Regions from separate parts of the Homo sapiens genome. Here region 1 is linked to region 2. The links come from fine-mapping of genetic effects on gene expression. Tissue or cell type: tibial nerve. Region 2 holds a variant in brackets; the other region holds the start of a gene. All regions are shown on one strand. Distances are between the middles of the regions.

What was found. PIP is the estimated chance that this variant, and not a neighbour inherited with it, causes the effect.
Region 1: ZFYVE28 starts here. The variant in region 2 is fine-mapped to the expression of ZFYVE28 in tibial nerve (GTEx, PIP above 0.99). The same link has a PIP of 0.9 or more in esophagus muscle and whole blood.

Annotation. Positions count from the first base shown.
Region 1 is chr4:2,413,637-2,421,735 of GRCh38, reverse strand. ZFYVE28 (zinc finger FYVE-type containing 28) reads left to right here and starts at 3,091. Exons shown (of 13, transcript NM_020972.3): 1 at 3,091-3,451. The coding sequence starts at 3,413. CFAP99 (cilia and flagella associated protein 99) reads right to left here and starts at 2,781. Exons shown (of 16, transcript NM_001193282.4): 1 at 2,643-2,781. RefSeq lists silencers at 2,567-2,616, 2,857-3,086, 3,207-3,366 and enhancers at 4,372-4,930, 4,931-5,489, 7,924-8,099.
Region 2 is chr4:2,372,334-2,380,432 of GRCh38, reverse strand. All of the region lies in intron 1 of ZFYVE28 (zinc finger FYVE-type containing 28), which reads left to right. LOC107986249 (a long non-coding RNA gene) reads left to right here and starts at 5,989. Exons shown (of 2, transcript XR_001741550.2): 1 at 5,989-6,081; 2 at 7,268-8,099. The variant A/G (reference allele first, on the strand shown) is at 4,844.

The DNA of each region.
Region 1 (8,099 bases), 41 kb before region 2:
AGATTTTTTTCTCATATTGATTTTAACTCCATTGATCAGGACTTGACTATCTTATATTTAAGGCAACTTTAAAGGTGGGCTGGACTAGGCTGGGCGCGGTGGCTCATGCCTGTAATCCCAGCACTTTGGGAAGCCAAGGCGGGCAGATCACTTGAGATCAGGAGTTCCAGACCAGTCAACATGGTGAAAACCCATCTCTACTAAAAATACAAAAATTAGCCAGGCGTGGTGGCAGGTGCCTGTAATACCAGCTACTTGGGAGGCTGAGGCAGAGAATTGCTTGAACCCGGGAGGCAGAGGTCGCAGTGAGCTGAGATCGTGCCTCTGCACTCCAGCCTGGGCGACAGAGCGAGACGCCATCTCAAAAAAAAAAAAAAAAAAAAAAGGGTGGGCAGACTAAAGCTTCTCTTTCCTTAGGAAATATTTTATAGACACAAATGAGATTATATGAGGAGGTTTAAATTCCATCAGACACAAAACAGCTCAACACTCTCAACCACTAGGAGATAACTCATTTACCTAAGATCTCAAATGTATGTTAATTAAAATATAGTCTTTTCTCCCGATTAAAGCCAGTCTCCTAAGGGTTGCTACCAAGTCATGCCCCTATGGCTTGTGCTTAAAGCACAACCCCACGTGGCAGCTTTTGCTAGTTGCTTTTCAATCTCCACTACCCCTTTCCTCCCAAATAAGAAAACTCTGATTTTTAGCTGGGTCTACTGCTGCCCAATTGAAAGATGGCATTTCCCAGCCTCCCTGGCAGCTGGGGCATGGTTGTGTGGCTAAGTTCTCCCACCACCTTCAAGAAGTGGAAAGGTGTGAGACTTCTGGAAAGTCTCCCTGAACGAGAGAGGCATATCCATCTTCTCTTTTGCAGCTGGTTCCTGGGCCGAGGAGGTGATGGCAGGAATGTGGGCAGCCATCCTGGATCATGAAGAAACGTGAATGGCAGATAGAAAAGCTGATCCTTGAGGACTTTAGGGCTGCCATACCAACCACGATTGCCTCTCCATGGACCTCTTTTATAAAAATATGAGTAATATTCTTGTTTAGGCCACTGTGATGTTGGGATTTTTCAATACATGCAGCTAAACCTAACTGATACCCCACTTCCCCAAGTTCAGCCTTCATCCCATGCACAATTTCAAACTATAAAACACAGGAAGGGAGCCTCTGAGCAGATACAACTGCTCCAGGCCTTGGAGTTGGCCAAGGATAGACCCACAGAGAACAGCCATTCACTCAGTGGACAAGCCCATCAAGTGTCTACCCCAAGATCCTGTGCTGAAGAAATGATGGCTTTGGGAGCAGCAGGTTTTATGGGGGAAGACTGAGAGTGTGGTTTGGGACACGTTAAATTTGAGAGGATCTGTTAGGCGTCCAAATGGTGAAGAACAGGTAAACAGGTCTGGAGTTTCAGGGTTGAGGCTAGAGATATAGGTTTTGAGAAGTTTGGGAGAAAATGGTTGTTTATAAAACCATGTAACTGTAGGAAATCCCCCAGGGAGGGAGTGGATAGAGTAGGTTCCAAGGACTGAGTCCAGGGTCTCCAGTGTTGAGAGGTCGGTGAGCAGGGGAGGCATCCAGCCAAGGAGATCAAGCAGGAGTGGCCAGGAGCGAGGAGGAGAAGTGGACAGTGGGATCTGTTTCAGCCAAGTGAGGATGCTGTGTCACGGAGAGGGCACAGTCGGCTGGGTCACGTGGTAGTGACAGTTCAAGGAAGAGATGAGCGCTGACCCCGATCATCGGATTTTGCAACATCAAGGTCAAGGATGACTTTGATAAAGAGCTTCAGAGGAGTGGTTGGGTGAAAATCTGATGGGAGTAGTTTCCAGAAAGAACAAGTGGGAAGGAATTGGAGATAAGGGGAAACTCCAGAGGGGTTTTGCCCTTCAGAGGGTCGACTGGGTGGTAGGAAGAGGAGAGTAGGGAAAATCAATCAGTTACTCAAAAATAAACATGGACCCTACCCCCAACTAAGAGAAATCTTAGATGCCAGCGCGCCTAGGCTCACATCGCGTCTGTTGGAATAAAGTGGTCATGGAGCCCACGGACCTTTCTGAGCACCTGGCACTGGCCAGTGAGGACAAGCAGGAACAGGTCAGACTTCTCAATTCTGAACCGAGGGGGGCATGACTTCCATCTCCTGTGTCTTACATCTGCACGTTTCACAACAAGCCAGAGACGTGGTGGTGGTGCGGCAGGGAAAAGTGCAGCGCTGTGGGGTCAGGCCGACCCAGATCCGCCGTGATCTGGATGCAACCCCCACAGCCAGGGCACGCCGGCCTCGTTGTGCCTGCTTCTCTGGCTGTCAATGGGAAGTTTAAGTGAGGCCACGTGTGGGTTTTTAGCTCTCTGCTTGACACATAGCAGGTACTCAGATTGAGGTGAGCGTTTTAAGGTACAAATTAGGGCACCACTGGGGGGAGTAGCGAGGGCGGAAGAGTATCTTTTTAGAACGCACCGCTGATAGTGGTGATTTAAAAAAAAAAAAAGAGGCACCGTTCACTTTCATCGGGGAGCTGGGAAGAAGACAGAAGAGGTGTTTGGGAGAAGCAAGATGAGCAGCGAGCGAGAGGGAACCGGCCGGCAGGTCATGAAAATCGGCGGCGCGTCGCCCCGCACCTGTCCCGCCCCCGTACCTGGCGGGCGCTCGGGGCAGCCGAGCCCTCCTGCCGCCGCCACCTGCCACCGCAGCAGTTTCCTGGGCCAGCTGGGGCTAAGGTGTTGGCAGTCGTCGTCCGTCAGCTCCCGGTAGGCAGGACGCCGCGGCTGTTTGGCGTCGTCACCTAGCAACCGGCGGCACGCTCCGCCGCCATCGGGTGGACTACAACTCCCACAATACACAGCGCCGCGGCGCGGCCCGGGACGCCAAGCCCTGGGCGCCACCTCCCCGCCATGCCTTTCGGGACTTGTAGTTTCTTGGATACCCGGGCGCGGCGGGTCGCCCCGCCGGCAGGGAGCGCGCCTCGGGCGGGGTGCGGCGCCCGCGCAGGGATTGGGCCGCCTCCGCCCCGCCCGCCCCGCCCGCAGCGCGCGGTGGGCCCGGGGCTCGCGGCGCCCTAGGCGCATGTGCGGCGCGGGGCGGCCGTGACCAGCGGAGCGCTGGGTGTCAGTGAGCAGCGAGGAGCCGCGCGCCCCCGTGCCCGCGTCTGTCCGTGCGCCCGAGCGCCCACTCCCGGGTCTGAGGTCTGCCCGGCGCGCCGCTTGCAGAGCATACTCAGGGCCGCGCACCTGCCCCGCGCACCTGCCCGCCGCCCGCTCGGCGCTCCGGGCTTCGCTAGCCAGCCTCCCTGCGACAGCGCGGGGGCTCCGGCCGTGCCTCCGCGTCCGCCCCGCGCCTCAGCCGGGCCCGGGCGCAGCGCTGCGGAGGGCGAGGGCCGCCCGGAGTCCGGCCAGGGCCGGCGCGGCGATGATGAACAGGTTCCGAAAGTGGCTCTACAAACCCAAGGTGAGCGGCCCCGCTCGGGCCGGACGCCCCCCGCGTCGCGGCCTCTCCCTTCCCCAGGACCGCCCGTCCGCCCTACAAGACGGACTCCCTTTCCCTGTCCGTGGCCGGCCTCTTCCCCCACCGCCGACATCCTTCCCTCCACTCCAAGACTTGGACAGATCTTCATCGCCCTGTCTCTGAGGCGGATCCGAACCTCCCTCCCGGCTTCCTAAGCCCGGGTCCAGGACTGACCCTCCTGCTCCTCCTCTCGGGCCGGGGCGCACTTTCCCTCCCCCTCTATCCAGGGCCACAACGGGCCCCTCTCCCTCCTCATCCCGGTCCTGGACGGTGCCCTCCTACACTTCGTGGTCCCCAGCCCGCGGGCCCGGAGCAGACCCCCTACTACTTCTCCGTCTCCCCTCCCTGCACCAGGAATGCCCCCTCATTCCCGTCCTGCCCCCACCCCCATTGTCCTGGGCCCGGAATAGATCTCCCTCCGCACTCCAGAACAGACCCTCTCCCCACTTCCCCAGGTTCTGAGAGAACCCACATTTCCCAATCCCTGGGTCCAGGGCAGACCCGTCCTTCCATGTCCAGAGAGGATCCTGATGGCCCTGCCAACGGCCTCCCTTCCCGAACCAGGACTGACCCACACCTCGGCCCAGTTCGCGTCCCCTCCCTTGTCCCTATCCTTGTCCCTTCCCCACCCACGTCCTCTGGAATCCGGGACAGGTCCTCCGCCCGGCCCTTGGGGCGAGCGCGCCCGTGGCCAGCAGCCTCGGCGGGGCGGGAGGTGCGGCTCTCCAGCCGGCGCCCGCGCCTCTCCTAGCGCCGCGGGGTCGGGGTCCGGGCGGCGCGCCCCGTGCCTCAGCGGCTGCGCCAGTCGCACTGCGGGCGCTGCGTCCCCGCCGCCCGCCTGGGGCTCGTGCCCGCTGCAGCCGGAGCAGGGCCGGGCGCGCTCGGCGCGGGATGAAGGCGCGGCGGTGTTCAGGATCCCGGCGCAGGGTCCAGGGCGCATCTGGGCGTCCGAGGGTGGCACCCTGGGGCCGGCGCAGCGGGGAGGCCCGGGCCCTGAGATCTTGGGGGAGGTCACGGCTCGGGTGGGGTCACCGCGGCGACCAAGGGCGGGAGTGGGGCCAGCGCTTCGTCCGGGCAGCTCGGACGTCCGAGGCCACCGCGTTGCCGACCTACCCCTCCTCCCTCCACTGGCCGCCTTTCTCCGTCCAGCGTCCCAGGCCTCCGCCTCCACCGTGGGTGAGCTGTCACGGCAGAGGTTTCCTGAAATCCGTGCCTCGCGTGCGCCCATTCCAGGAAGGCGGGAGGTGGGTTTGGAAGATCGGCACGGAGGTTTGAGGGCTCACTCAGGGCCCCGAAGGGCGCGTGCTTCACGGCCTTTGAGGTCGGGGAATTCTGTTTGTCGTTGCCGGAGTGTTGGGTTGAGGGCTTACGGTACATGGGGCGCCCCTTGCTCGGCCTTGGCTTGATTGGGAGGGGACTCGGGGGGATTCAGGGTTCCTGTGGCGTCACTCCCTGCTCCCAACCTCCCTGTCCCTAGCAGCGACTTCTTAAGGGTTCGTCCCGAGCCTTGCGTTTCCTGGCGCTGGGTGTGGTTTGGGGCCGAGCCGTCTGCGCCCAGCCTCTCCTCCTGCGGCGCCTTCGAGCCCCTCTCGGTCCTGCCTGCTGCCCCCATGTGCCTCTGCCGGGGTAGGGCGGTGGCCTCCGCTCTGGATAGCTGTATGAATGGTGTTTGGTTCCAGTGACTTTTCCTCACCAGTTACTGAAAACCAAGTCTGCTTGTAAAACGGCGTTTTGGGGGCGTGCAGCAGCATTATTTTCTGTGACAAATGGCGGGAGGCAGCTGGAGAAATGTGTCTTAGGTCTTAACTAACATTCTGGTGTCGCTGAAGGCACTTGCTGGGACACTAGGGGATGCCCCTCCGGACGTGGCTGTGGAAGAGGCCGCATTTGGGGGATCACCCTTCTAATCGTGTTGAAAAGGAAGGAAAAATAATTGTAGACTCTGTTTCATGAGTAGCTGAGTAATTTCAGGATGGCCTTGTCTGTTTCCGTTTAGGGAAGACAGGTTAAAGGTAGAACATGGTACTAGACGTTGTCCTGAGAATTAGGAATTGCGTTCCCAACTTTTCCTCTTCAGCAGGCAGCTGCCTTTCCAGGCAGGCGGCGGGCACCAAGAGGGCACAGCCAGTGAATCAGCTGATCCCAGGGATCAGCCCAGAGCTGTGTGCCTCCGGAGAAGGGATGGAACAGGATTGATGTGGATCTCTCCTTTTTCTCGTTGTCTTCTCCTGGCATGCTGTCTGGTAGTAGCTCCAGAGCTCTGGACTTGAGACGTATCTCCATTTCAGATCTGTCTCTGGCCATAGCATTTTTCTGGGAGCTGGTGCCCTGTGGGCAGTCTGAACTTGGGCTGTCTCTTATTTGAGAAATGTCTTTGGAGTTAAATATCTTGATTGTTTGAAGGGTCGGAGTATGTTATGTCACTCCATAGCTTTTCATTTTTCAAACCAAAGCTCAGATTCTTGCCTTGGATTATGAATTGAATTTTATGCTTCCCCTTCCTGTCTAATTTAACACATTTTGGCACAAATAAGCACAAAGTCAGTCCTGGGAAGATTCTGGGCCTGGAAGAGTTGAAGTGTTAAACATTAGCTGTGGGAGGATGTGTCTGGGGGAGACTGTTGCCTGCAGTCAGGAATTTTTTTCCCACTTTGTATTTAGATAGATGTACAATTCAAACTGAATTTTTAATTGAATTCCTGCTTTGGTTTAAAACTGCACAGCGAGCTTCTTTTTATAAATTTTTAAGTGTGTGTGTGTGTGTGTGTGTGTGTGTAGAGACAGGGTCTCACTATGTTGCCCCGGCTGGACTCAAATTCCTGGCCTCAAGCAATCCTCCTGCCTCAGCCTCCCGAAGCACTGGGATTACAGGTGTGAGCCACTGTGCTTGGCCAGCACTGAGCTTCTTGTTCATCACAATATGGTGGAAAATATTCTGAAATGAAAATATTATTCACTGTTCTTATAGTTATAAAAAGCAATTGGAAATGCTGAAAAATATTCCTGTGTGACATACATTTTGATATCTGAATAAAAATTAGCTACTACGTTAGCTACCTAAGTTGAGTAAAAGAATGCCTGATGAATAATACAAAAGTTTAACATTAAAATGACATTTGCAAATTATATTTCTATTCACTTTCTTAATCAGTCTTTTAAACACCAATATGATTTTTCTTGGTATAAAGTGTTCAGATCTTGTAAGTATTATCCTGACTTTGAACACTCCCAGGAAGAGACGGTGCAGGAAAACCTGTCAGCTTGTCCTGCTTTATTGATGTTGGTGAAATACTTTCTTGCCTTTCTTTAAAGTCTTTTCAAGAGAGTTTATGCTTTAGAAAGGCAAACCATTTTGGCATGGTTGGTGTCTTCATCTGAAACAAAAGTCTCAGTGCTGTGTTTCTTGCTTGGTTATGACTTTCTATTGATTGACCTGGCTGGAAGTTCCTGGTCACTAGGAGGTGAGAATTCCCGGCATGGGGGAGAGGGACCTGGACACTTACCTGGACCTGGGAGAGATTTCCTGGCCATCACCAAAGAGCATATTAATATCACTCAGGATGAATTTGTGTTTTCCATCTTTGAGGAGGAATTGACCCTCAGTGGGTTATGCTGGCTGGGTGGATGGGGTAGTTCCCATGTGGCTGGTTACCATGCTCAACCTTGCACTCCGAGAAGAGCTCGCTTGTCTGCACCCCCAGACCGTTTTCAGAGTGGGGGCTATTAACCTTTCTTGTCCCCCCGCTTTGTAGGAGAACATTCCTTATAAATCTGCCTTACTGAGTGATGTGTATTTGGCAACTTCCTGTAAACATTCCAGGCCCAGATTAGCGATGACATGGCCTTTGCCAAGAGAAGCCTGAGTGACTTGCTGGGTGTGTGTGCTTTATGAAAGAAGACCCCTTTGGGTTTGGTAAAGTCTGCCTGGGTGCCAACCCCACTGGCATGTTTTGTGGGAACCTGCCAGGACTGAGCAGTACTGAGTATGGGACTTCCTGCCCTTCGGCTCTTGTTAACCCAGCCTCAGTCACCTGAGGGTTTTCGGGGTTCCAGCCCACTTGGTCATGGGCCCTTGAAGAGAGCTGCCCATTGGTGGCCAGCACTCTGTACCTTGGCCACCTGGTTGAGAGGGGCGGCACCCTGGAAACGAAGTGGCAGATGGGGGCGGGCCCCAGAGTGGGGGGTGGGGCAAGGTCTGGATATATCTGTTTGGTCCCGAAGTGCAGAGATGAGGCGCAGCCCAGTCCTCCTTTTGGGGCTCCCCACTGGTGGCTGAGGGTGAGGGGCGATGACAGAGATCCCCCAGAAGTATACAGCTGGGGCTTGGAAGGCTGTGGGAGGGGTCTTGGTGGACACTGGGGCCTGGCACGAGTGGGGCCTATGAGAGGGCAGTCACTGGCATGTGCCTTGACTTCCCTGCTTTGCGTCACCTGGGAAACGAATGGCTGTCCCTACAGCACTGCGTCCATGCCCCATGCCAAGCACAGACCCTGTTCCAGGGACTTGGGATTTGAGTGATAACTTCTAGCCAGGCTACTGATGAATTCGTTTTCAGCTGATAAACTCCAAGTGCCCAGCTGTGGCAGGGGGT
Region 2 (8,099 bases):
TCATGAAGCAATGATTCTTAGCCGATAACTCGGCAGTTGTTCTTGGAGTGGCAGGAAGTTCCTCTATTGCTCTCCCCGCTCCTGCTAACTCAGCCATGAGAGCAGGTTTCTTGGCACTTACCTAAGTCAAAACGCAGGAACAGCATTGCAGCTGAGGCCAGCCTACTTTGGCAACTAGTGAGTTACCCAAAGAGACAACAGCTAGTCAGAAAACCCCGGATGCATCCACCCCATCAAGAACTACATTTCTATGAGACACCTTTCTGTGAAATGATGGTGTACCAAGATGTGTCACATGTTTATGTTGTTTGATCGATTGTATACTAATACTATTAGGTTGTTGCAAAAGTAATTGCAGTGTCTACATTGTCGACTCAGTGCAGAGAAAATGCTAACACTCAGTGCCTCACAGAAAATTTAAAAATTTGACCAGCCTGGGCAACATGGCAAAACCCCATCTCTACTAAAAATGCAAAAATTAGCTGGGTACTGTGGCTCATGGCTGTAATCCCAGATACTTGGGAGGCTGAGGCACAAGAATTGCTTGAACCCGGGAGATGGAAGCCGCAGTGAGCTGAGATTGTGCGACTGCACTCCAGCCTGGGTGACAGAGAAAGACTCTGTCTCAAAAAAAAAAGTGTGAAAATTTAAAAATTTAAATCCCATTTATAGATTTATAAATATGTAATATTGATATATATGTTGTAGAAAAATTTGATAGATGATCAGTAAGGACTTTGAAGCATAGAAATGTATCCCATGAGGATAAAATTACAGGAGGGAGGTGGGGTGGCAATGTGAATTCGAGTTGGCAGAGGTGCGCGTGCCATCTCTGCACAGGAGGAGTCCTGCCCTATTTATTAAGGAGGGGCAGTCAGATGGGGGCGATTTGTCGTCCAGGAGTGATGGGCCAATTTTGTTGCTAAATGTCAATGATTATAATGTGCTGACAATCTGAGCCTCTACATTCTTGTGAACTTCAGCCGAACATTTTAGCTGTCAGCTTGGTTTTTCCTGATTCTGTTAAGAGGAGAGAGCTTTAAATTTGAGGTCCTGGCATAGGGGGACAGCTCCTGGCCTGGGAGGGCCGAGAATCCTTGCACTGCCCACCTGCTCCCGGGTCTGACAGAAGATGGGATTCTGAGATTTCCTTTTCTTGGTAGATGAGGAAACTGTAAGTCCCTCCCATTGCTTTCTTTGATTGTTGAGGGCTCTGTCTCTCCCTGGAGCGGTCCCCCCAATGCCCACACCTCCTTGCTCTCTGGCACGGGTTCTGCTGCCAGCATGGTGCAGACTGGGGGGCTTGGCCACTCTCAGATGCTGTCTGTCCATGTGACCAGCCCCCGTCTACCCCCTGCTGTCATGAGACAGCCAGGCCCCTGGAGTTCTGGACACCTTCCCAGTGGCTCACCAGGATGCCTGGAGCCCAGAAACATCCAGGTGCAGATGTACCCCATAGAGGAAGAGCCCTCTGCTCAGAGCCTCTGGCACCAGCTTCCACCCTTGTGGGAGTCTAAGGTGGTTTGGGAAGGGGCAGGTGGACCTTGATTCTGATTTGGCTTCAGTTTGCCTCTTCTTTCTTTGGGAATAATCAAGATCTGTGGCAGGCCCTGGGAGAATGAAAGGCTGGGTATCGGGTCTGAAACAAAAACAAGTAGTCGTTTTGGCTGGCTCCAAAATTCGTGGTTGGGTGGGTGGATGGAGCAGGGGTGGATCAATACCTAGTCTCAATCCAGGAAAGCAGTACAGAGGAAATGACAGGGTGCTGCCTCACAGTCCACAGGAGGACCAGCCCCAGCCGGGAGTCGGGCAGCTTCCCTAAGAAAGAAGGAAAAAGCATCAAAGTTCAGTGGAGAAGTTCCAAAAAGTGTCTCATAGGAGTCCCAGGGAGAGAGTGGAGAGGAAAGAATGATGGAAAAGCTGTATTTGAAGAAATGGTAGCTGAATTTCCCAGTATTGAAGAAAGACATGAGTTCTGAGATAAAAGGAGTTCCAAGTAGGATAAAGAAATGTGCAGTCATGGGCCATGTGACAGGCCACATATACAATGGTGGTCCCATAAGTTATGATAACGATATTTTTTTATTTTTTTGAGACAGGGTCTTGCTCCGTCACCCAGGTTGGAGTGTGGTAGTGTGATCTCAGTTCCCTGCAACTTCCGCCTCCCGGGTTCAAGCAATTCTTACGCCTCAGCCTCCCCGGCAGCTGGGACTGCAGGCGTGCACTACCGTGCCTGGTTAATTTTTGCATTTTTAGTAGAGATGGGGTTTTCACCATGTTGGCCAGGCTGGTCTCGAACTCCTGACCTCAAATGATCCGCCCGCTTCAGCCTCCCAAAGTGCTGGGATTACAGGCGTGAGCCACCGCGCCCAGCCTGTTAGGATAACCGTATTTGACTGTACCTATTCTGTTTAGGTACACGAATACTTCCCATTGTGTTACAGTTGTCTACAGTATACTGTTCAGCACAGTAACGTGCTGTGCAGGTTTGTGGCCCAGGAGCAACAGGCTCTACCATGTAGCCTAGGTCTGTCGGAGGCGGGGTCATCTAGGCTTGTGGAAGTCCATTCTCTGATGTTTGCACAATAATGAAGTCAATTGACAACACCGTTCTGAGAACATATTCACATCGTTCAGAAATACCTGGGAGTAAATCCACACTGAGATGTATTGTGGTAAAGCTGCAGAATGTCAAAGATGAAGAGAATCTTTAGAATTAACAGAAAAGACAGAGTAACTACGAGAAATGGAAAAAGCCCCGCAGGTTTCTTCTCAGCAACCCCAAGTGCCGCAAGATAGAGAATGAGCCCACAGTGCGGCGGGAAGGCGACTGGCAGCCCCGAATTTTAGACCCAAATGAACTGCTAGTGAAGGGGCAGAAGGCAAGATGAAGACATTTTTCAGGCAAACATTTTTAACCATTTACAGATGCTCGTTGTAACATTTCCTATTATAAGATGTACATCAGCAAGAAAAGGGAACTCGGAGGAAAGATGATGGGATAAAAGAAACAGCTGCAAGGGTGGAAACTGATAAAATGTCAGCGAGTTTAGCTCATAATTGTTTAAGAAATTATGTGTGTCCTAAAATAGAGATAAAAGTAAAGCCCTAGGCCGGGCGCAGTGGCTCAACGCCTGTAATTCCAGCACTTTGGGAGGCCGAGGCGGGCGGATCACAAGGTCAGGAGATCGAGACCATCCTGGCTAACACGGCAAAACCCTGTCTGTACTAAAAATACAAAAAATTAGCTGGGCGTGGTAGCGGGCGCCTGTAATCCCAGCTACTCGGGAGGCTGAGGCAGGAGAATGGCGTGAACCCGGGAGGTGGAGCTTGCAGTGAGCCAAGATCGCGCCACTGCACTCCAGCCTGGGTGACAGAGCGAGACTCCGTCTCAGAAAAAAAAAAAAAGTAAAGTCTTAGACCAGTGCTGTCCAATAGAAATAGGATGTGAGAGCTTTGGGTGCAAGCAACACGTATACACTTTTATTTTATTTATTTATTTTTTTTGAGACAGGGTCTCGCTCTGTTGCCTGGGCTGGTGTACAGTGGTGCAATCTTGGCTCACTGCAGCCTAAACCTCCTGGGCTCAAGGAATTCTTCCATCTTAGCCTCCCAAGTAGCTGGGACCATAGGGTCATGTCACCATACCCAGTGATATGGTTTGGCTTTGTGTCCCCACCCAAATCTCATCTTGAATTGTAATCCCATAATCCCCACATGTCGTGGGAGGGACTTGATGGGACGTAATTGAATCAAGGGGGCAGTTCCCCCCATGCTCGTCTCATGACAGTGAGTGAATTCTCAGGAGATCTGATGGTTTTATAAGCGTCTGGCATTTCCCCTGCTGGCACTCACTCTCTCTCCTGCTGCCCTGTGAAGAGGTACCTTCTGCATGGTTGTAAGTTCCCTGAGGCCTCCCCAGCCATGCAGAACTGTGAGTCAGTTAAACCCCCTTCCTTTGCAAATTACCCAGTCTCAGGTATTTCTTCATAACAGTGTGAGAATGGACTAATACATCTGGCGAATTTAAAAACTTTTTTTTTTTTTTTTTTTTTTTTTTTAGAGATAGGGTCTCACTATGTTGCCCAGGCTGGTCTCAAACTCCTGGGCTCAAATGATCCTCCCACCTCAGCCACCCAAAGTGCTGGGATTATAAGTCTGAGCCACTGTGCCTGGCCAATTTGAAATTTTCTAGTAGCCACATTAAAAAAAAAAAGTAAAAGAAACAGGTGAAATTAATTTTAATAATATTTTATTTGGGGCCAGGCACGGTGGCTCATGCCTGTAATCCCAGCACTTTGGGAGGCCGAGGCGGGCGGATCACGAAGTCAAGAGATTGAGACCATCCTGGCCAACATGGTGAAACCTCGTCTCTACTAAAAATACAAAAAATTAGCCAGGCGTGGTGGCAGGCGCCTGTAATCACAGCTACTTGGGAGGCTGAGGCAGGAGAATCACTTGAACCCAGGAGGCAGAGGTTGCAGTGAGCCAAGATTGTGCCATTGCACTCCAGCCTGGGCAAAAAGAGCGAAACTCCATCTCAAAAAAAAAAAAATTATTTGACCAGAATATTGTTTTAACATATAATCAATATGAAAACTATGAGATCTTGCACATTCATGGTGAACTCTGAAATCTGGGGCTCCAATCGCCCCACATGGTAGGGTTAGAAGGGAGGGGTGGAGGCTGTCAGTGGGATGCCCCTTGTGTGTGGGGCGGTGCTTTCTCAGCCTGTGATAAGAGGTGGGGGCGGCACAGTCCTGTGTCCCGCCCCCAGGGCAGGCGCCACGTCGTTTCCTCTCCTCCTGGTCCATGGAGGAGTTGAGGGGTTAGTGTGTGGGGC[A/G]AGCTACCTCCTCACACCGTCCTTTAGCACAAGCAAATGCAGTGAGCTCAGCCGCTGCTCATTCTTGTCAGTGGGCATGAGCCAGCACCTGGCTGGGTGTGGATTCATTCAGTTTGGTCACCAAGTCGTGACTTTATCTGGGGGTCACAGTGTGAGCCACTGCTGTCCAGCAGGGGGAAGAGCCCGGCAGAACCCTTGGGGAGGTACCGGGGCCTCCTTCGATGCTGGCCCGGCTGATTGACCCTGGGTGATTTGGGCCTTGTTAGAACTTAACCCCCTACTGATGCAAAGTTGCTTAAAATCAGTTGGAATGACTTAATTATAACATTTTCCTGTAAAAAGAGGGCTTGAGGATAAGAAGAGAAAGCCACCTTCCCCGAGGCTGCGGGGAAAAGCTTTCTTGGAAAAGCCACGGTGGCTCCGCATTTTGCCACAGCAGCAGGGAGGGAAGGGGACGTGAGCCCAGGGGCCAGTGCCTGGGAAAGGCCACGGCACTTTCAGAGCTTTGTACTGGAGGTCTGAACTGCTGTTCATATCATCTGAGTTTACACTTTCATAAGCAGTAGAGAAAGACAAGGACTTAGGAGGATTCTGTCTGGAACCTCAGGGTCTTCCACAGGAGGACTGGGCTCTGTCCTTATCCACGGGCACCAGGTGCCAACAGGGGACATGGTCATCACATGCTGCTGAGCCACAAACCCACCGAGGAGGAGCCGAATGTGGCATGTGGGGCTGGGTACAAAGATATGTCCTAAGAACTTTCTAGAAAGAACATCAAGTTTCTGCCCAAAGGTGGGGAGATGAGGCAGGAGCCACAGCGTCTGATGTTGGGGTTTATATGAGTTCAATTTAAAAGTTTAGGTTTCTTTCATAGATATGTGGGCATTTTTCTATATGAGCACACAAATACTTGCTTAAAAACCAATTTTCCCCCTCCTCCTCCTTCTCCTTCTCCTTCTTCTTCTTTTCTTCTTTTGAAACAGGGTCTCACTCTGTCGCCCAGGCTGGAGTGCAGTGGCGCAGTCTCAGCTCACTGCAGCCTCAACCTGCCTGGGCTCAAGTGATCCTCCCACCTCAGCCTCCCTAGTGGCTGGGACTACAGGTGTGCATTATTACATCCAGCTAATTTTTGTTTTTTTTTATAGAGATGAGGTCTCACTGTGTTGTACAGGCTGGTCTCGAGCTCCTGGACTCAAACAATCCTCCCGCCTTGGCCGTCCAAAATTCTGGGATTACAGGTGTGAGCCACCATGCCTGGCCTGAAACAGGATTCTGACTGACATCTGTCCTTGTACTAACAGCCTTCAGCTTCTAACAACACTAGTTGAAAACACGTTATTATTTTTGAGAGAGATCTCTGCATGGGTTCTGGTTTTTTCCGTGTACTTGCACTCTGGCTGCCCCTGAGCTTTTTCTAGATTGGAAGGGCTGCACCTACGGACATGGTGGGCTGTATGTGACCATGCACACATCATGATTTTAGAGTAAAAACATTACCTTTTGCTGTTCAGAGTGAGGAGCTCTTGGAGACCCATGGGTTGGATGAAGCCCATCTTGGTGGATCAGGCAGTCAGGGCCAAGGTCAGGACTGGCTGGGATGAGGTAGCAAAGGCAGAGCCAGGGGCTGGGAGAGATGGGGGGCGGTGCTGAGGAGAGAGGACACAGGGAGGCAGGGCTTGGGGCATGACAGGGAGGGCCTGGGCAGGAATCCCTGTGCGTTCCCCTACTTTTTGGGTTTTGAAAGTGGAGAGGCGTGGCATGTGCTCTGTGCTGCTGTTTTATCATATACTAAAACCGTGTGGTATGCTGCTCACATCATCTCTAGCTTTTAGAATGAGCTGAACACATCAGTGCATTTGAGGGGCTCCGTGGGGAACGGAGATTCTGCCAGGGCATACGAGTGCATGTTTGCCACTGCATGGGTTCTAGAGCCCCTGCTTGAAGGTTTGAGACAATTAAGAATGGATCGATGTGTTCTCAGGTTCACACAGGCAGAAGACCAAGATGTTGACAGTGTTTCAGCTCCAGGAAACACTGTTTTTCTTTTACATTTTTCAGAACTTCCATACTTAAAATTATTTTTTTGAGACAGGGTCTCACACTGTTGCCCAGGCTGGAGTGCAGTGGCAGTGGCGTGATCATGGCTCAATGTTGCCTTAACCTCTGGGGCTCAAGCAGTCTTCCCACTTCAGCCTCCCGAGTAGCTGGGACTACAGGTGCATGCCACCACAGTCAGCTAATTTTTAAATTTTTTGTAGAGATGTAGGTCTCACTATGTTGCCCAGGCTGGTCTTGAACTCCTGGGCTTGAGCAATTCTCCCACCTCAGCCTCTCAAGGTGCTGGGATTACAGGCACGAGCCACAGCACCCAGCTCATACTTTTTATAATAAAAAATTATTTAAAAGTCATTTTGTATTTCACAGGCCCTATCAGACATGGTCACTCTCTAAGAAGGTCTGAGCATAGCTGAAGTGGATCATCTCATTCAACTTTGGGTGACTGGTGAATGCTGTCTGTCTGCCACTGCATTCTTGAGCCTTCTGTCCCTGTGGTGGGGGTGGCTGTGGGGGTAGAGGCTGGCTCAGGCATAGGGTAAGGGTACCCCGAGTGTCTGCCCAGAGACGTGGTGGTCTTCTGGTGGGCATGCGGTGGTTTTTCCCTCCCTAGTCGTCCAAGGTTGGCTGGCAGAGAGGCTGGGGGTGCTAGGAGGGCCCCTGGGTAGGGACTGGGTCCAGGCTGCAGTGAGTCAGCCATGGGGAGAGGCCTCGGGGAGGCTAGGTCTTAGGGGTGTGCAGCATCCTTGGTCCAGGGAGGCAGCTGGCTCTGCCATCATGAGCCCCAACCCTCGGAGTTTAACTGACACAATCAGCGAAGCCCTGGAGTGCCTGCCCCTGCCTCTGCGGAGGGAGTGACAGCCAGTGCCCACCCGTGCCCAGCCGCAGGCCCTCCCTCATCAGGTCCCTTCCCAGAATCCAGGCCCTGTTCAGAACCCCAGCACCCCTGCCTGCCCGCACCTCTGTGTACCCCTCCCACATGATGGGGTGATAGGGCATGGTGCCGTGCTGGAGGGGCTAGGAGGCCTCGATGATGGTGACGTCCAGGCAGAGACCCGAATCGGGTGAGTCAGGTGTTGGGTGAACCTTGAGGCCAAAGACCCAGCACTGGAACCTGCTGGGCATGCTGAGGACTAGAAGGAGGATGGCGGGAGCGGTGGTGGCAGGAGGCGGCGATGGAAGGGCTGGGGAGGCAGCGTAG